Regions from separate parts of the Homo sapiens genome. Here all the other regions are reported to be linked to region 1. Evidence: microRNA targets listed by miRTarBase, many of them from high-throughput screens and not tested one by one. Region 1 holds a microRNA gene; each other region holds the end of a gene's coding sequence.
Evidence for each region. Region 1 holds the annotated microRNA hsa-miR-152-3p (UCAGUGCAUGACAGAACUUGG, at 2,148-2,168, opposite strand). A microRNA usually pairs through its seed, bases 2 to 8, with sites in the 3' UTR of a target mRNA and lowers its output. Matches are read on the target gene's strand: a 7mer-m8 pairs with bases 2 to 8, a 7mer-A1 pairs with bases 2 to 7 and ends in A, and an 8mer does both.

Region 1 (3,000 bases):
TTGTGAGGCCAAAGCTGGGTTTGACCACTAAGGACGGTCTGACTGCAGACAGGGTTATAGTGAAGATTAAATATCTAAGAAACAATTCCTCACACATATCCCATAACTAAATTAATGTTTTTTGTTTGGGAATGGTGAGCCTCTCTCTCTGACTCAGTTTCTTAATCTGTAGGGAGGAAAAGCCTTTGGCCTTGCTGATCCACCTCTGACCATCTGCTGGGGCAAGGTGTGGTCAGCTCAGTTTTCAATTTTCTGGATGTGGATTTTGCCACTTAATACTCAATCCGCAGGCAGATTAGCCATCTCCCTAGTGGCCGCTGCTTATTTGAATTTCATAAAAACAAAAAACTTTCAGTTCCAAATAAACAAACAGAAAATCTATTTTTTGGGATGGGGTCTCACTCTATAACCCAGATTGGAGTGCAGTAGCTCGATCATGGCTCACTGCAGCCTCAACCTCTCGGGCTCAGGCAATCCTCCCACTTCAGCCTCCCGAGTAGGTGGGACTACAGGCACACACCACCACGCCCGGCTAATTTTCGTTTTTTTGTTTTTTGTTTTTGTTTTGTTTTGTTTTTTGTAGAGATGGGGTGTGCCATGTTGCCCAGGCTGGTCTGGCACTCCTGGGCTCAAGCAGTCCACCCGCCTCGGCCTCCCAAAGTACTGGGATTACAGGCATCAGCCACTGCGCCTGGCCTTACAACACATTTCTTTTCTTTTTCTTTTCTTTTTTTTTTTTTTTTTGAGACAGAGTTTCGCTCTTGTTGCCCAGGCTGGAGTGCAATGGTGTGATCTCGGCTCACTGCAACCTCTGCCTCCCAGGTTCAAGCAATTCTCCTGCCTCAGCCTCTCGAGTAGCTGGGATTACAGGCGCCCACCACCATGCCTGGCTAATTCTTTGTATTTTTAGTAGAGACAGGGTTTCACCATGTTGTCCAGGCTGGTTTCGAACTCCTGACCTCAAGTGATCTGCCCGCCTTGGCCTCCCAAAGTGCTGGGATTACAGGCATGAGCCATCACACCTGGCCTTATAATGCATTTCATAGCTAATGCAGATGCTATAGCTCCCCTACAATTAATTGTGTTGACAGCAGAAATTTATTTTTGGATTATTTTAGTTTGGTTCGCTCAGGCCATGTTTGCTAGGATAGATAACAGCTAATTGAATGGGGGTACAGTGAAAACCACCTTGAGCTTCATGTCAAAAAACCCGAGTTTGCCTGTGAAACCTGTGAAATGGGAGAAGTGAAAAAATTAAATAAGTAAATAAATAAAATTTGAGTTTGGATCTGTTAGGATATTAATACTTGTGACCTCAGGCAACTCACTTAGCTTCTCTACCCCTCATTTTCTTCATCTACGAAATTAAAGAGTTGGATTATACAGTTTCTAAAATCCCATCTGGTTCTAAATCCTTAGACTCCTTAGACTAAATCGTTAGTGTTTACCAAGCTGTAGAACAAAAGTGGAGGTTTAGAGACAAACCCCAAAGAACAAAAGAACTTGTGTGGGGGTTTGGGGACTAAGACTCCTGGGTCCCAGGCTCAACACTCCACTGACCCATTAGGCAGAACCTTCCCATGCCCAGGTCCAACTGGCCAGTAGCAGGATGATAAGGAAACATTTCAGGGAACATGAGTAGAAATAGAGGAGACCCCTCATTTCAGGGAGCAGCACCTTGACAAGGCAGGAGGATGAGAAGGACCTCTGGAGGGGTCTAAGCTGAGCTGCCCTGAGTCACAGAGATCACAGTGGAGTTTCTCCTGAGACAGGAGTGTCAGCTGAGTGGGAACTGTGTCCCTCATGGGTGGGGTCAGAGGTTACCTTGGCCAGCAGCCGGCGCCCGTCATTATCTAGGATGAAAACAGCCTTGATGGTGTAGAGGGAAGGTTCCTGCAACTGACACCGGAGAGGAGAGTTCCGTTTGGCCCCTGACTCGAGGTGGACACCCTGTGTCTATGGGATCTGCTGGCCCTAGGATACATCCTCAGGCCCCAGCAACCCCAGTCCTCAAGGTCCACAGCTGGTTCTGCCCAGCCCTGTGCCACATGGGCCAACCCAGGTGCCCACTCCACTCCCAGGCAGATGTTCCACTGCAGGCCCCGAGTGGGCGCTGTGCCCGTTGGGTGCAGAAGGTCCTTCCGGGCCCAAGTTCTGTCATGCACTGACTGCTCCAGAGCCCGAGTCGGAGTGTATCACAGAACCTGGGCCGGGGGGGACAGCGGGCCGAGCCTCCTTCTTCCAGCTGATCCCTGGCCGGGCTGGACCTGCGCTATCAGCGCGCCCCCAGGCCCTGGCCCGGGTAGACTCCAGAAGCATGCCCATCACCCACCGGTGATGGGAGCCGAGTCTGGGACGGACAGGCCACTCCTTACCCTCCCCGCGGAATCGCAACTCACCCGCCACCCCCACTCCAAACGGACCCAGAACTTCAGCCCCGCGCCGACGGACTCAGGACAGGCCTCCTCTCCGGTCGGCGCTGGGACGAACTTTTCCTCCCGGGTCCTGGGGCCAGTCAGGGGTGACACAAAGTTCCCAGCCGCCGGGCGCGCGAGTTCTGAGTTGGCTGCTCCCCCTAACCCTGCTCTGTCCCTGCCCAGCTCCCGCCGCCCGGGATCCCCGCGCCCGCCCGCTCCGTACCCGCAGCCCCGAGGGCTCCCCGGCTCGAGCAGGCGGCGCCGGGCCCCCGGCCTGGGCCGCCGCGGCCCCCTCCCCCGGGTGCGGACGTGGCCAGGCCTCGGGCCGCTGCATTCCGCTCGCCGCCTCGCACTGACAGCGCCGCCCGCCGCCTGCCCGCCGCCGCCGCCCCGCCTCCGCGCCGCCCCGCGGCCCCCTCTCGCGCGTGGCCTCCCTTTCCTCGGGGCCCCGTCCTCTTGCTCGTTCTCCCCCATCTCCCCTCCCGCCCTCACCCCACCTCTCCTTCCCCCACTTCTCCTCTCCCTCTCTCCTCCTTGGCTCCTTCCCGAGTCCCTTACATCCCCGAACTCTGCATCCTCAGGG
Region 2 (4,232 bases), not on the chromosome of region 1:
TCAGATTATCCATATAAACAATTGAAATAAAAACATTACATTATACATCAGATTAACAGCAACTCCCAGAACAAAGCTTACAGTGTATAAAAATAGCTACGTAAAAAATTTACATAAAAGGCAAACCAAAAAGAAATCCTCAGTGCAGACATTTACGGAAAAAAAATTGAACCAAACACAACATATGACCTATTATCATGGCTGCCAAAACTTGTTCTTATTGTTTGTAATTAAATTTCATTTGTTTTACTTGAGATAATTCTCTGAAAACCTGTGACAGCTTGGTAGAATGAACTGCTTAATACTTGAACCATGAATTGCTGTCAATGTCTTTGTTTATGTCTTAAATACAATCCACGTTCATGCTTCAATTGGTCTATATGATTTTTATCTCTGAAATGAAAAAAAAATAATTTAGATAAGCTTCCAAAGCAATAATTTTTTAACATCAACAGATACTTTGTACTAAAAGTAATTTAGTAAATTACTTTACAGGAGGGCCTTTTATAAAACTCCATTGTCCCCAAGCCCATCTATAATCTCAGGCATTGCTTCATCCATTCTACAAATAGTTTTTGGAATTATTCAGAGTTTTCTTTTTTTGTAAAATTAATACTAATATTACAAGTTTTTTTTCAAGAAAATATTTCATTGCATTTCTCTTTAGGTTAAAAGTACACTCATTTCTTCAAATCACACTATTTCGTGGGATTTGTCTTCAAGTACAGTTTTTCATTGAGAAGTTATACGATTTTGAAGAAAACAGTAGTTAAAATCTATGTTTACAAAGGACTGGGGAAAAGAACCCTAGAGAAGTGGAAAAAACAAACAAAAAAAGTCATGTGGGAATGCTGCATACTTGACCTCCAATGAAAGGTGAGATAGAGAAGCAATCCAGTTCTGATTCCTTTCACCCCATCAGTTTAAAATCCTGGCTTTCAGATTTTAAAAACCAAGTCTTGTTTCAATTATTCTATTGTTCTCCCCTGTGTGCATCCTTTTAAATTCAGTATTTTCTCACGCTCCATCCTTACTATGGGATTAACTTGGATGACCCACTCAAATTGTGACTTGTGGTTTATTTATAATGAACCCGAGGTTTACTGTGGCGGTTGGGGCTTGTCATATCATATCGGTAAGCTATAGTAACAGTTATTCTAAAGGACACATTAATAGTCCAAATGGCTCTTCTATTTGCTTGGTTTAAGGGAACACAAATAAAAAGAAAAACCTCAAATTGCAGGTGGCAATGCCATGGAAACATACCTCTTTTGAGATTGTCTTAAAAATCACACACAGCTATTTTATATGTTAAATATAACAGTCATATGCCTCTACATATGTGCATATAGATACATGGATACATATATACACATACACATACATATACTACCTATAAAAGCATATGCGTATATGTATACACACGTGCACAAGTTTGTTATGCTTTTCATTAAAATGATTTGGGATATTGGCTGTATAAATACACTCACGCTTTTATTAAATATCTAGATTAAAGTTTTTTATTTTTTTATTTTTATATTTTGAGACAGAATCTCATTCTGTCACCCAGATTGGAGTGCAGTGGCACCATCTTGGCTCACTGCAACCCCCACCTCTTGGGTTCAAGTGATTCCCCTGCCTCAGCCACTGGAGTAGCTGGGATTATCGGTGCTTGCCACCAGGACTGGCTAATTTTTGTATTTTTAGTAGAGACGCAGGGTTTCACCACATTGGCCAGGCTGGTCTGGAGCTTCTAGTCTCCAGTGATCCACCCGCCTCAGCCTCCCAAAGTGCTGGGATTACAGGCGTGAGCCATTGCCTATACCTGGCCTAAAATTTTCATATTTTAAAATTATTTTCATAATCATTTATTTAAAACAAATCTAAGGTATTAGAATCTGTTCTTACTGAACCCAAACACCAATTCAAAAAATAAAGCTTCTTTGCACTTAAAGTTTTTGCATTAAAATATAAAATGATAGTTGAATGTTAACATCTCATAGTTGGTTTTTATTATTCAGAAGATAATGATTATTTTGAGGAGGGAGTGGGGGAAACTGGTAAGTTTCCATTCTTCCGAAAACACTTTCTGAGTCACGAAAGTTTCCTTTCGAAAAACTCTCTTCCTGTTTTGAGAGAATGTGGAAAAATAGGAACGCTTTTACACTGTTGGTGGGAGTGTAAATTAGTTCAACCATTGTGGAAGGCAGTGTGGTGATTCCTGAAGGATATAGAACCGGAAATACCATTTGACCCAGCAATCCCATTACTGCGTATATAGCCAAAGAATTATAAATCATTCTACTATAAACACACATCCACATGTATGTTTATTGCAGCACTGTTCACAATAGCAAAGACTTGGAACCAACCCAAAGGCCCATCAGTGATCGACTGGATTAAGAAAATGTGGCACACATACACCATGGAATACTATTCAGCCATAAAAAAGGACGAGTTCATGTCCTTTGTAAGGACATGGATGAAGCTGGAAACCATCATTCTCAGCAAACTAACGCAAGAACAGAAAACTCAACATTGCATGTTTTCACTCATAAGTGGGAGTTGAGCAGTGAGAACACATGGACATAGGGAAGGGACCACCACACAATGGGGCCTGTCAGGGGGTGGGGGGCTAGGGGAGGGACGCATTAGGAGAAATACCTAATGTAGATGATGGGTTGATGCGTGCAAACTACCATGGCACGTTTATACCAGCGTAACATACCTTCACGTTCTGCACATGTATCTGAGAACTTAAAGCATAATAAAAAGAAAAAAAACCCCTCTCTTCCTGTTTTGAAAGCTGTAATTATGGAGCATCTTAACATAAAGGACTTCATCTTTAAGGATGTTTCCTACTTGCTAGGGAATTATTTCTATGAACCTCGTACAGACTACTCACCTGGACAACTAGGACAGTTTCTCTCTTAGGCTTCAGTTTTGTGATTGTTTTCTTCTAACTTTTTGTTTTCTTCCATATTACCGAGGTCCTTGTTTACATGTTTTGATGCAGTCCTGTAAGAGAATTAAATAAACTTCATCATATTGACACATACATGTTCAACTTTTATATTTAATTTTAAGATTTGAATTAATGTGTCTTTGAAAAGCAAATGTTTTACAGCAAACCGCTAGGCAAAAATTTCCATATCTGTGAGCCTTGACTGATAATGGAGCACATTGTACTGAAATTAGCTTGGTGATGGGGTTCCAGTAAATGTATGCTAAGAGAAAAAAAAATCAATTATTTTGAAAACAGACTATACAACACTTTGTGCATCATGTTTTTAGCTAGGTTATTTTTCTCTCCACTTTCTGGGAAGTAACTCATTTGATAGTGTAAATTTTTGTTCTAAGCGAATTTTCTCCAAAAAAATTTTCTTAAGGACATTTCATGAAGGCGCGTTCCCTTCTGGTGTTCCCTATCATGTATCCCAGTTGAGCTAACACCCTATGTCTATCTTTATGAATATTCTGTTTTACTGAATACAACAACAACCAGATTATTGAGACCAAGTTTATGATAGAACATCGACAACAGAAGCTATAGCAACTTTAACGTGGCTGGTTCTCAAATTATGGTCCCCAGACCAGCAGTATCAGCATCCCCTGTGAACTTGCAAGAAATGCAAATTCTCGGGCCCTATACCAGAACTACAGAAACAGAAACAGAAACTGTGGGGATGGGACCTGCGATCTCTGCTAAACAACTCCTCAGGTGATTCCACTGCCTGCCACAGTTTGAAAACCAATGCCTTAGCGGCTACTTTGATTACCCATGCCTAGGCTCTTATTCTTTAAGACATTAAATCAGATTTTCTTAATTACACAATTAAGGGTTTGTGGCTAACTAGGAGAAAGCAGAACAAATGGTAGCTGTATGTCCAAGAGTGCACCCCTTCCACCTTCCCTCCCTCCCTTCCTTCCTTTCCTCCCAGCATCCAGAATAAGAGACAATTGCAGACCATTATATGACCTTGCAGTCTACTTCCTGCCCAAAGGCTACTACAACCTGAATTCTCACATAATAGTTTTACCTGCTATTGTAATTTGTACATAAATGGAATCATCTCAGATTTATTCATTTGTGTTTGCCTTTTATTTAAACTCAACCTTAAGTTTGTGACATTCATGTATAATGGTGCATATGATTATAGATTGTTCATTCTCATTGGTCTATAGGATGTCATAGGGTGAATAAACCACAATGTATTTATTTATTTTACCGG
Region 3 (4,232 bases), not on the chromosome of region 1:
GCATGGTGATGGGAGCCTGTAATCCCAGCTACTTGGGAGGCTGAGGCAGGAGAATCACTTGAACCCGGGAGGCAGAGGTTACAGTGAGCTGAGATCATGCCACTGCACTCCAGCCTGGGCGACGGAGCAAGACTCCATCTCAAACAAACAAAAAATAACATTATTCTGAGTGTCTCTGTGAGGATGTGTATTAGGGTTCTCCAGAGGGACAGAACTAATGAATATATGAAATGGAGTTTACTAGGGAGAATTGGCTCACACTATCACAAGGTGAAGTCCTGCAGTAGGCCATCTGCTAGCTGAGGAAGAAAGAAGCCAGCAGTTGCTCCATCCAATTCCAAAAGCCTCAAAAGCAGCAAAGCCAACAGTGCAACCCTCGGTCTGTGGCTGAAGGCACAAAAGTCCCCAGGAGGCCCTTGTGCAACTCCCAGAGTCCGAAGGCCAAAGAACCTAGAGTCTGATGTCCAAGGGCAGGAGGAGTGGAAGGAAGCATCCAGCATGGAAGAAAGATGAAATCCACAAGGCTCAGCAAGCAAGGTTATCCCTCTTCTGGCCGCCATCTAGCCGTTTGGCAGCTGACTGCATGGTGCCCACCTACATTGAGGGTGGGTCTTCCTCTCCCAGTCCACTGACTCAAACGTCAATCTCCTCTGGCAACACCCTCATAGACACACCCAGAAACAATACTTTACCACAGGAGTCCCCAAACCCCGCTGTGGACCCATACGGGTCAGTGGCCTGTTGGGAACCCAGCGTCACAGCAGATGAGCAGCAGGGTGGGTGAGCATTACCGCCTGAGTTCTGCCTCCTGTCAGATCAGCGGCCACATTAAATTCTCATAGGAGCACCAACCCTATTGTGAACTCACACACAAGTGATCTAGGTCGTGCTGCTCCTTATGAGAATCTAATGCCTGATCTGAGATGGAACAGTTTCATCCTGAAACCATCCCCCACCCCATGGTAAAACTGTATACCACAAAACTGGTGCCAAAAAGGTTGGGACCACTGTGTTATCAGCTATCTAGACATCCTTCAATCCAATCAAGTTGACACTTAATATTAACCATCACACGGTGTTTCTGGATCAGACTAACATTTAAATCGGTCGACTAAGTGAAGCAGATTGCACTCTCTAATATGAGTGGACCTCATCCAATCAATTGAAGGCCTGAATAGAAGAGGAAGGCTAAACTTCCCCCAAGTAAAAGAGAATTCCTCCTGCCTGAATGCATTTGAACTGGGACATTGGCTTTTTACTGCCTTTGGACTCAAACTGAAACACTGACTCTTCCTGGGTCTTGAGTCTGACAACCTTTGGATGAGAACTACACTATCAGCTCTTCTGGATGTCCAGCTTGCTAACTCACCTGGCAGATCTTTGGACTTGTCAGCCTCCACAATCGCATGAACCAATTCCTTATAATAAATCAGTTTATGTATGTATGTATATAAAATATAGATATATTATATACACACATCGATTCTGTTGGCTATTTCTCTGGAGTACCCTAACACACCCCATAGTAGAAGATCTGAGAAGCACCATTTCGGGCCCTCTATGGTCCAATTTTTAAACTACACACATTCAGGAGAACCTCCACACAGATTTGAAAGACCTCTAAGGTCTCTGTGGGCCTCTCTTACGGAAGGGAAATTTAGAAGGGGGAGGTTAGTAGGATGAACTATAGCCCTTACCACTAGAGTTGCTCTTAGGGCCTCAGCGGTCTTCATCTTCTCCCTTTTCCACTGTCCATTTTAAATTCTTTCACTTTGGTGGGTCTTGGTGGCTTAACGGATGGAGTAACCCAAACCTTCATTCTTGAGGGGGTCCAGTCAATAAACATGAAGATAATTGTGCTTGAAATCGCCTATGGATTTGTATATTATTTGTCTTTTTAATTTTTTAGTCCTGAGGTAATCATTTTAAAATAACTTTTAATGTAATATAAATAAGATTGTATAAATTAAGAAAATCAACTGAAGTAGGTCCCAGTTTACCACACCTCCAAACTATGTATTCTTTTTGAGACATGGCAGAGTCTCTTTTCTAATTAGGAAATATTAATTAATTAAGACCTCTATGCCCTCATATGTTGTATCTCCTACAGGAGCAATAACCATACAAAAGGCCAGAATGCCTTCTGCCTCCATTTAATCAAATACTCAGTTGATTATAGATTATGTAAATAAATCTGCTTGAGAAAGGGCTTTTCTTGGCAAAACAAATCAGAATCTGTATATTAGCTCTGTCAGACTATGCAAGGAAAATAAATAAAAGCATAAACTCAATTCAGTAAATCTTTATTGAGCTCCCACGGGGTGCGTGAATTTAGGATCTATAATTTACATAAGTAGGAAAGTGTTACTTTAGCCCCCTTGTTTAAAAAAAAGCAAATTACAATTTCTGTATATATTTCAAGTGAATCATTTAATGTGAGTGAGGCTCAGTTAGGTGTTACCATAAGTATTAACAGAAGAAAAAGGGAAAGCACAAACATTTTCCCTCTACCAGAAAAGGGTCTGATGTAAGATAAACTAGCCTGTTGGTTTAACAATAGCTCATTAAAAAGGCCAGAGAATCTGGGAGAAGATGTACTTGGAAGCACTGTCCTCTGAGGGCCCATTCCCAAGGGACAGCAAAATACTGAAAAAAATTAACTGGCTCAAAAATTATATTGAGAGATAAAAAGAGTTAGTCACAGCTTAGAAAAAAATTCCAGAATAAATGACACTAGCTAGATTAGTAATTCTGATGTTTCCTTGTCATAGTACTCTGTGCGAAACAGAGGGACTACAAACTGGTGCCCCTTTGAACAGAGTGGTTTTAAATAATAGATTCTCCAGTGCACCAACTGTATTTTCAAGTATAATTCTGGTATTTGTACCTAGAAATACAGAAGAAAAAGCAGCAAGGAGAAAGTGTCAAGTATATAGGACATAAAATGATTTGGCAGCCCTAGAATTCCCAGTATGAGTCTTTTTCATCAGGAAAATCACATTCTGGCTCAGTCCAAGGTAACACTGGAGGCAATGATATTGATGGCTTGTTATAAGCAGGAGGCAACAGTGAAAGTATTGAATCCTGGCTTTCTTCTTTCATCTGTTAAAGAAACTCAAAATAAGGCTGTTGATATATCATTTCAATATATCAGTTTTGTTAGCAATAAATAACTTTTAAAGAATTTATGTTAAATGTGTTTAAAATTGTTTTCAGGTATTTCCCCTAAAACTGCCTTTGATTCTGGTCATCTGAAAACAGGAAGAAGAGCCAAAGAAACTGACTTCTTATCAGAGTTACTTTGCCCTTTCATCATTTCTAGCCAACATAGAAAATGTCTCTAAATTAATCAAAATATACACCAAGCATCAGTAATGTGATGATAGTCCATTTTATTTTTACTCATTCTGTTTTGAAGAATGAAAGTATTTTAGAAAGTCTATAATTGAACTACCAAAAGTTTTCTTGTTTTTAACTTTATTTTGTAACAAAGTTATTAGTAAGAACCTTGGTAACCAAAATATCTCATCAAGCCAACAAAATAAAGTGACTTTTTAATAGTAATTAAAAACATCGAGACAACGGATGATAGATCAGCTCACCTGTTTGAAGAAAACATGGGACAATAAACTGCTTGCTGATGGCCTGAAATTTTTAAGAAAGTTATAAAAAAAAAACCTTTATATTAGAATGTAGATTTCAGGTGTAAAAATATGTTAGAAATTAGGTTTAGTGCTATAAAACCCAATACGAAAAAGATTAAAAAGAATGTATGTCAGAAGCCCAATTCTTAGCTACAACCTTGACTAAAGGAAATAATTGTAGAGGTATCCTTCAATTAATCCATACTCAACATTTACTGCACACAGTATTTACTGACAGTAACTTAGTAGGGTAGCAGCAATTTACATTTTATACTACTTAGAGTCTTAACGTAAATGTGCTAATTAATGTCTAGAAAGAGTAACTGATTTTTACTCTCATTTTTATTGTAAAAATCAGTTAGAAAATGATACAGCTGAGACTGGAGCCCAACTCTTCTGATTTTTTTTTTTTCTTTTGAGATGGAGTCTCGCTCTGTCACCTAGGTTACAGTGCAGTGGCATGATCTCGGCTCACTGCAACCTCTGCTTACTGGGTTCAAGCAATTCTCCTCTCTCAGCCTCCCGAGTAGCTGGGACTACAGGTGCATGCCACCACACCGGCTAATTTTTGTATTTTTAGTAGAGACG
Region 4 (4,232 bases), not on the chromosome of region 1:
CCTTGTATTTTGTGGTCTCAGAAGCCTTTGTGGGGACTTCTAGTGTAGGGAAGGCAGTCTCTCTGGGAGCTCCTGCAATGCCAAACTCTTAGCCCAGGTTCACTCCTCCGATCCAAGCCTGGCAGGGGTGGGGCATCATGGTGTGTAGGTATCAGGCAGGACTTGTAAGCCATCCCGTCAAGTCAAATTCTGGCTTAATGTGTCTTTAGGTAGATGACCTCTGAGCCACAGTTTCCTATTCTATGAATTGGGGTTTAGTAAATCTCTCGGGACTGAGAGCCAATGAGGCCATGTGTGCACACAAAATGCTGGGCACAAATGAGGGGCTCAGCGGGGCTGAGAAGTACATCCCATCCAGTGCCGACATCCGCTTGCATGGTGCCCTGGTAACCTTGCCTCTGCCCTCCCCAGGCCACCTCACCGATCAGCACCTGGCCGAGTTCCTGCGGCGCTGCAAGGGCAGCCTCCGCCCCAACGGCATCATCGTCATCAAAGACAACATGGCCCAGGAGGGCGTGATTCTGGACGACGTGGACAGCAGCGTGTGCCGGGACCTTGACGTGGTCCGCAGGATCATCTGCAGTGCAGGCCTCAGCCTCCTGGCCGAGGAGAGGCAGGAGAACCTCCCCGATGAGATCTACCATGTCTATAGCTTTGCCCTGAGATGAGCCGGGGCTGGCAGGAGAAACTGAGGAACCACAGTCCTGGTGGGGGGAGCTGGCAGCTGGGCAAGATCCAGGCGCCACGCTGGCGGTTCGTGAGTGTCGAGGCACCACTAAATATAGCTGTCTGCCGTCCACTCATTATGCGGGCTCTTCTTCAAAAGGCAAGGTGGGACCCGGCGGGGAGGGTGCTGCTGAACCAGCGGTGAGGCAGGAGCCCAGACCCTGCTCTCCTGCGAGATGGGATTGGGTGGAAGGGGCTCCAGGGCTCCTGGTGCTCCCCATGTGGGAATAGGGTGGCCACATCAGTAACCGATTCCCTGGGCCTCCAGCCCGGCCTTCCAGCCATGGGCCTGGCTGCCTGAAGAGGAAGGAAACCACCCCCAACTTGGTTGCTGGGGACTTGAAGACTTCAGTGTGATCTTTACCTAGGGGAGGGACAGAGCTGGGCTGGTGGAGCCCATGGGTGCTGCCTGATGGTGCTGTGGGGTGGGTGCTCATGTGCCAAGTCCTGCTTGGCAGTGGAGACCTGGGGCCCTTAAAGTGTTACAACAGCCTGCAGCAAGGGAAGTTCCCCGTAGCCTCAGTCTTCTCTGGGCTTGAGGCTGCTCCTTGGCAGGCATTTAAAGTAAAAAATAAAATGGGGCTGGGCGCGGTGGCTCACGCCTGTAATCCCAGCACTTTGGGAGGCCGAGGCGGGCAGATCACGAGGTCAGGAGATTGAGACCATCCTGGCTAACAGGTGAAACCCCGTCTCTACTTAAAATACAAAAAAAAAAAAAATTAGCCAGGCGTGATGGCGGGCGCCTGTAGTCCCAGCTACTCAGGAGGCTGAGGCAGGAGAATGGGGTGAGCCCGGGAGGCAGAGCTTGCAGTGAGGTGAGATTGCGCCACTGCACTCCAGCCTAGGTGACAGAGCGAGACTCTGTCTCAAAATAAAACTAAAATAAAATGGGGGCCGGGCACAGTGGCTCATGTCTGTAATCCCAGCACTTTGAAAGGCCGAGGCAGGCGAATCACCTGAGGTCAGGAGTTTGAGACCAGCCTGACCAACATGGCGAAACCCCGTCTCTACTAAAAATACAAAAATCAGCCAGGCATGGTGGTGGGCACCTATAATGCCAGCTACTCAGGAGGCTGAGGCAGGAGAACTGCTTGAACCTGGGAGGCAGAGGTCGCAGTGAGCCGAGATTGCACCATTGCACTCCAGCCTGGGTGACAGAGTGTCTCGAAAAAAAAAAATAATAAAATGGGACCTCCACACTGTGGAGGCCCTTGCCAGTCTAGAGTGGTGCTTCTTTGCAGGGACTTGGAAACAACCCCCCAAACACAGCATCCCCTCACACCTGCCACCCACTTCCTTACCGGCTGCTGTGGGAGCCTCTATCCTGAACTATGGAGGGGCGGGGTGGAAATTTTATATAAGGACCTTGTTAAGGCCAAGAAAGTCAGTTTAATCTTATAATATAAATATATCATTTAGTCACCTCAGCTTATCCCCAGAGGTGTTTACACAATTCCCAATGACCAGTGCAGCTTGGAAGGGACTGAGGCTCGCAAGTGGGTGGCACAGTCGGCTCTTCAGTGGCTCCAAAGTGAGCCCCTCACAACAGGAGACACTTCAGAGAGGTCTGTCCCCAGCCACGCACTCATGATTGCTTTTTAGCAGAAGTCATGGTCGCTGAGGCCCTGGGTTTGGCAAAAGCACAGCTGCCAGCAGAGCACAGTTCTGGTAGGTGGGGCCACGGCTGACCTGGCCCCAGAGCTACAGGAACAGGCAGGGGCCAGCTTGGCTTGCAACACCATGAAACAAGCCTGTGGGGCCCTTAGTGTCTTCTCCCGCAGAGCCCACCAGAAACACTTCTGTGAGTAACAGAACCTGGAAGGAAAAGGGGCAGGGGTGGGGCCTTGGTGGCACCGCACAGGACGTGCCCCAGGCTTCCTCTCCAGCTGCACTGCCACGTGCGGCCAACAAGAGCCCCGCAGCCCTGGGGTGCTGAGGCTTGGTCCTTCCCAGCTTCTGCAAATGCCCTGGCACTGCCCTCCAATTCAGAGGGTATAAACATCAATCCAAGCCCTGTTCCTCTTTCCAACATGGGGGGGACTTGGAGTGCCGCTGGAGGGAAGGGGGCAGTCTCTCTGGAAGAACCAGAGCTGCACCCTTCACCACTGGAGTGATCACAGCTTCAGGCTCTACCTGGCTGGCTTTTCTCATGAAGGATCCCGTCTCATCTCCCAGATCAAAAAGACCCTCTTCTAATGCTGTCCCAGCATCTACCAACAGGCTGACCTGAGCTGCCCGTGTCCCCCGTTCCTGTAGCCTGAGACCTATCAGATGTCATCTTCCACGGAGCCACTGTGCTCGCTAAGGAGGTACCACTTCAGCCTGTCGGGCAGAGGCAGGGCTTTGACCTTCACATCCACAGGCCACGGCTGAAGGTAGAGCCGGATGGCCACACGGCACAGGTGCTTGAGGGGCGGGGGATAGCTCTCCAGCTGCCTCAAGGAGAAGTGGAGGGCCTGGATCTTTTCCGCCAGGCTGCCCACAGGGTGGATATCGAAGTTTTCGGGCAGCTGGAGTTTCTGAGAGTTGGTCACCATGAGATCCAGGACAGTCTCAGCTTTGCGCAGGAGGTCCGCATGGCTCTCGTCTTCCGTGCAGCCTGGGTGGGAACAGAGCCTCTCAAAGATGATGTGAAAGCCAGACCAGCAGGACGCACCGTGCAGGGAGCAGTTGTAGGCGGCTCCGGACTCCAGGAGGAAGCGCAGGAGAGGGAAGTGCAGTTTAAAGCTCTTCAGGCAGATGTGGGTGAGGGACTCGTGGGCTGGGCACTCGCTGGGGTCGGCCCCGTGTGCCAGCAGCAGCCGTGTGACTTGGAAGCAGAAGCGGTTGATCATCTGGGCCTCCTCTTTGTCCCCTCCCACGGTCTCACCAAGCAGGAAGATGATGCAGGTGAACACTGTGTCCCCATCTTTGGTGGTGGCCTTGACGTCTGCCCCTAGAAGAGCCATAGAACAAGAGATGCTGGGAGAAGGCCTTCAACCCTGGCAAAGCAACAGCACACATCGAAGGGGCGGGTGAGAGGACGAGGCCTAGGAGCGCGCCAGCCTCACCTCCTTCCAGTAAGAGACGAATGTTCTCAGTATTGTGGATCTGCACCCCGTCGCTGCTGGCCAGAGCATGGAGCAGAGCAGTTTTTCCTAGGGAGGGAGGGAGAGCAAGGAGGAGCAGGAGGCCAGGAAGCCCAGGTCAGGGCAACCCAGAGGAGGTGGCAGAAATCCAGACACTCAGAGGATCAGAAGATGAACTTTCAGAGACAACTCTCAGCTCAGGTGAGGGCTGAGGGTGACAGGCTTCTGGCCATTCCCTTTCCACCCAGAGAAGTGGGAGCGGAAAGGCCAGGAAAGGTAGGATTTTTCTGGACCCCAAGATGCTACCTGAGATGTTGGCTGGGCCTCTCCCAATGGGAAGCCATTGTTTCTTGGAAACTAAGTGCACACATGCCCTATTTCTTCCTATAGAAGGCCCTTGAGGGCCAGCACAGGGACAATGACTGCACTGCCTCTCTG
Region 5 (4,232 bases), not on the chromosome of region 1:
TTTAGAGATCTCCCTGTGGGGCCCAACAACTACCCCTTTGACTTGCAGAAACTTGAAGATTGTGACAGAAAAGCCGTTCACCAAATCGACCAGCTTCAGCGAGAGCAGCGACACCTGAAGAGGCAGCTGGAGAAGCTGGGCATTGAGAGGATCCGGATGGACAGCATCGGCTCCACCGTCTCCTCGGAGCGCTCCGACTCCGACAGGGGTGAGCCTCTCTCACTCTCCTCCCTGTCTCCCTTGTGCTCCCCAACCCCAGAGCAGGGGTTCAGTACTGCGGACAGGAGGCAGAGTGTAAGAAGAACTAAGACACTGGGTATGATGTAGAGAAGTCGAACAGTGTGACCTCCAGTGACAGGTTCCTTCTCCCTGCTAACACTTAGGTGACAACCCCAGAAGAGTTTGATTGGTGTCAGTTTTCAGCCTAGTTTGTTTTGTTTTGTTTTGAGACGGAATCTTGCTCTGTCACCCAGGCTGGAGTGCAGTGGTGTGATCTTGGCTCACTGCAACCTCCGCCTCCCGGGTTCAAGCGATTCCCCTGCCTAAGCCTCCCAAGCAGCTGGGATTACAGGCACACACCACAATGCCTGGCAAATTTTCCTATTTTTGTAGAGATGAGGTTTCACCATATTGGCCAGGCTGGTCTCGAACTCCTGACCTCAAGTAATTCACCCACCTTGGCCTCCCAAAGTGCTGGGATTACAGGCGTGAGCCACCACACCCAGCCAAATTTTTGTATTAGTAGAAACAGGGTTTCACTGTGTTGGCCCAGCTGGTCTCAAACTCCTAACCTCAAGTGATCCACCCGCCTTTGCCTCCCAAAGTGCTGGGATTACAAGCATGAGCCACCACGCCTGAGCTTTCTGCAGAGCGCTTTCATCAATGTCCTTCTCTCTTGTCCTCCCTGCAGAAGAAATCGACGTTGACGTGGAGAGCACGGACTATCTCACAGGTGATCTGGACTGGAGCAGCAGCAGTGTGAGCGACTCTGACGAGCGGGGCAGCATGCAGAGCCTCGGCAGTGATGAGGGCTATTCCAGCACCAGCATCAAGAGAATAAAGCTGCAGGACAGTCACAAGGCGTGTCTTGGTCTCTAAGAGAGTGGGCACTGCGGCTGTCTCCTTGAAGGTTCTCCCTGTTGGTTCTGATTAGGTAACGTATTGGACCTGCCCACAACTCCCTTGCACGTAAACTTCAGTGTCCCACCTTGACCAAAATCAGCTTTGTAACTGTTTTCAAGGAGGTGCTTAGGATTGTGGGTTTCTGATTGCATCCACTAGCTTCTCTTTTTCTCGCCATAAAAATTTGTCTCTGAGAGACTATACATTCCAATCAATTTGAAGCATCCAAGAATTCTTAGACCGAATAAGCAATGTCCACATCTCAGCAATCCCCCTCTTTGCTCTCCTCGTGTCCTCTCCCAGACCTTTCTTCCAGTTTTCTGGCTTACTGTGTTACTTGCCTAGGAGGAATGTCCAAGTGTGTCTTGTACTTAGGAAACTGAAGGAAACAAACTTTTGAAATTGAGATCCTGATCTCAGAACTCCAAAGTAAGCTTTGAAAGCAGCATTTAAGAGCACTTAACCATGGACCTCACCACCAGTGAGGAAGTCAGGAATACCTCTAGAAAACACGCCCTTCACACCGCGCATGCTCATTCCCCCGACGCGCCGCGTGTGGATGGGAGCAGTATTTCTCACTTTAAAATGGACACCTTGATAGTGTGTCTCTGGGGTTGCACAGCTCATCAAAGTTCCAAATTGTTTGTTCTCACAAACAAAACGGTACAATCTATTTTTGTGCGATGTTCTTGGGACCTCGCTGTGTTCTGCTATCTCGAGGCACATTCTCCCCTCCAACTTTGTTAATGCTACTTGTCTCTGGAACATTTTTTTTTCCTACCTCAGAGATAAATGAGATCTCCATTTCCCACTTAACACAGTGATTATCCTTTTTTCCCCCCCCAAAATAGTGACATTTGGTCCAATTATAATCTATTTTCCTATTGAACTTTCAGCAATAACTGAGCTGTGGCACTAGCAGAGCTAGTAGCCATTATCAGTGAAAGAAAAAGTCCACATTTCTACTCTCTGTTGCAGGTGAACAGGAGAGGATGGTACACTGTTACTAGAACTCCTCTCCTTATTGATTATTTTTGGACACACCCAGAAACTTCTTTATGGAGGCTTTTGGGTTGATAGTTTAAAAGGCTGATTTTTCTTTTTGGTTATGATTTCTCCCTTAAGTGGTCTCCGACTTTGTAGCATTTTTATTTAAGCTAAAACAGAGCACATGTATATGTACATAAGACACATTAAATCTATAAATACTATTTATTCATTTTATATAAACTAATGTAATGGAAAACAAATTCTTATGACTTTGTGGTTTTATAGATGTTCTAGAAACTTTGTATGTAGGTATCTACAAAATTAGTTCATTCCCCTGAATATTTTTGCATTCATATTTTTGAGGTCTTGATGTTTTCAGCCTCTGGCGAATCTTTTTCATTGAATTTGAACCATTTGTAAAATCTGTGATGCTGAAGCAGAGTGTGTCACAAAGTGATGAGAACATTACTAAAATCCACGGACGCACTGCGACCTAAGGGCTCAACGGCTGACTCGGCAGCGGGCAGCCACCCCACGCTCCCCTGCGGTCACTCGCACACCACAGCCTGAAGCTCCCCCAGCGCCTGCACCTCGCACACAGCTAAGGTCAAAGTTCAAACGCACTCCACACGGAAGCTCATTCTATACCCGAAGAGCAGTCTCAGAAAGCAAGATTACTTTTGTGTTTTTTAAAAAATGATTCTTTAATGTATTTTTCTAAACATTCTGATTGGAAGTAGTGGATTCCTAAATGATTCCAAAGTCACCTGTAATTCTTCTGTTTTTGTTTTGTTCTGTCTTTTCTTCATTTTGGCTTTGGGTGGGGGGAGGGGCAGGTGACACAAAGGATTTTTTTTTTTTTTTTTTAATTTTTGGAATCTTTTCCAATAACCAGCTAAAGATTTGCACTGAAATACAACTTGTATGCCTTTTGCATTTTTAAAGCCTGCTTCCTGGATTTAAGCAGAGTGATAGTGTTCAAAGAGCCAGTTCAGCCTGTAACATATTTGAAAAAGATATGTCTGCACTTTGAGGTCCCTTTTGAATGCCATTCACTAGACCTCTCAAGCATTTTGTTTCATTGCTACATCCAAGCGCCTCACAAGTCCACAATGCGGGACAGCATCAAAAGCTCAAGACTTTGGAAAAAGCTTGTGGGCTTGCACTGGGGGAGGGAAGGGAACAAAATTTGTGTACTTCTTTGTTTAATTTAGAAATAAGGCATCCAAGAGATGCCATTATTTTCTGTGTTTCAATTGTTGTGCCTTTGAGTTAAACTGCATTTTTGTCTTTTGGTTGAAATCTGAAATGTACTGTCCCAATATAAAACAGTAATTATTTGACCTTTGCACTGTTTGTCTGGTCCTTTTCAGTTTGATTGCATATAAATGTGGAACTTGATAGATCTCTATATTTTTAATGCACTTGTGATAAACTGGCAGCAGGGTTAGACATTACTTTCAAAGCTTGAGGTAGACCGAGTCAGCATGCTAGACAGGCTTCTCTCTCTAACCAAAACTGTAATCTTCAGGACCAGCAAACTCAGCCCAAGGCAGCTAATCCCCCCAACCCCATCCTCCGCGCCCCGTGCGGCTGATCGGCAGCCCTGATTCGCCAATTTGTCCTCTCTCATTCACTGATCCACCAGCCTGACTGCTAAGAGCTATAGTCTTTTTAGTTGTTTTGTCTTTTTAAGCAAGATGAAAACCTTTCTATTAGGGATTTTGGGGTTGGGAGGGGATGGGCAGAGATATAAACCCCAGCCTTTAAGACTTTGACAATTGTACGTAAATACAGATGTGTATAAATATAGGCACATGCATATTTTTATGTGAAAGTTGATTTTAAAAAACTAAAAAAATCTAAACTGCACTCTTATTGATACCATCATAACGCAAGTGGGAAAAATAAGAGTACGCAGTCTAATTTAATTTCATGCAGTGGGAAAATATATATGTGTGCTTCTGTAACATCCTGAAAACATAGCTTTCCATCCCCTGTTGGCTTTGAATGGTGGGCCGAGCACCCAGGTCGTCTGTATTTTGGTTTTCTTTTGCTAAGCAGAGATCTTGAATTCTTCAAGGTGCTGATAGCAACTGCTGGCTCCTTTCTGTAGTCAC

Region 2: miRTarBase lists ALCAM as a target of hsa-miR-152-3p. Seed matches in the 3' UTR shown: 8mer at 140-147.
Region 3: the mRNA of STRADB is a reported target of hsa-miR-152-3p. Seed matches in the 3' UTR shown: 7mer-m8 at 2,844-2,850.
Region 4: miRTarBase lists ASB6 as a target of hsa-miR-152-3p. Seed matches in the 3' UTR shown: 7mer-m8 at 2,191-2,197 and 7mer-m8 at 581-587.
Region 5: miRTarBase lists MXD1 as a target of hsa-miR-152-3p. Seed matches in the 3' UTR shown: 8mer at 3,017-3,024, 7mer-m8 at 3,274-3,280 and 7mer-m8 at 3,460-3,466.

Annotation. Positions count from the first base shown.
Region 1 is chr17:48,035,027-48,038,026 of GRCh38, forward strand. It overlaps MIR152 (microRNA 152), which reads right to left and starts at 2,221; the gene lies at 2,135-2,221. COPZ2 (coat protein complex I subunit zeta 2) reads right to left here and starts at 2,771. Exons shown (of 9, transcript NM_016429.4): 1 at 2,641-2,771; 2 at 1,825-1,899. The coding sequence starts at 2,751.
Region 2 is chr3:105,570,638-105,574,869 of GRCh38, reverse strand. ALCAM (activated leukocyte cell adhesion molecule) reads right to left here. Exons shown (of 16, transcript NM_001627.4): 15 at 2,906-3,018; 16 at 1-393. The coding sequence ends at 2,931. Among named protein-coding and RNA genes, the nearest start is that of ALCAM, 210 kb to the right of the region's middle.
Region 3 is chr2:201,478,902-201,483,133 of GRCh38, reverse strand. It overlaps STRADB (STE20 related adaptor beta), which reads right to left. Exons shown (of 12, transcript NM_018571.6): 11 at 3,603-3,645; 12 at 2,288-3,102. The coding sequence ends at 2,959. Among named protein-coding and RNA genes, the nearest start is that of STRADB, 29 kb to the right of the region's middle.
Region 4 is chr9:129,634,797-129,639,028 of GRCh38, forward strand. It overlaps ASB6 (ankyrin repeat and SOCS box containing 6), which reads right to left. Exons shown (of 6, transcript NM_017873.4): 5 at 3,777-3,863; 6 at 1-3,661. The coding sequence ends at 2,994. It overlaps NTMT1 (N-terminal Xaa-Pro-Lys N-methyltransferase 1), which reads left to right. Exons shown (of 4, transcript NM_014064.4): 4 at 412-1,339. The coding sequence ends at 668. Among named protein-coding and RNA genes, the nearest start is that of ASB6, 5.2 kb to the right of the region's middle.
Region 5 is chr2:69,937,187-69,941,418 of GRCh38, forward strand. MXD1 (MAX dimerization protein 1) reads left to right here. Exons shown (of 6, transcript NM_002357.4): 5 at 49-208; 6 at 911-4,232. The coding sequence ends at 1,098. It also overlaps a transcript of ASPRV1 not described here. Among named protein-coding and RNA genes, the nearest start is that of ASPRV1, 22 kb to the right of the region's middle. RefSeq lists an enhancer at 123-658.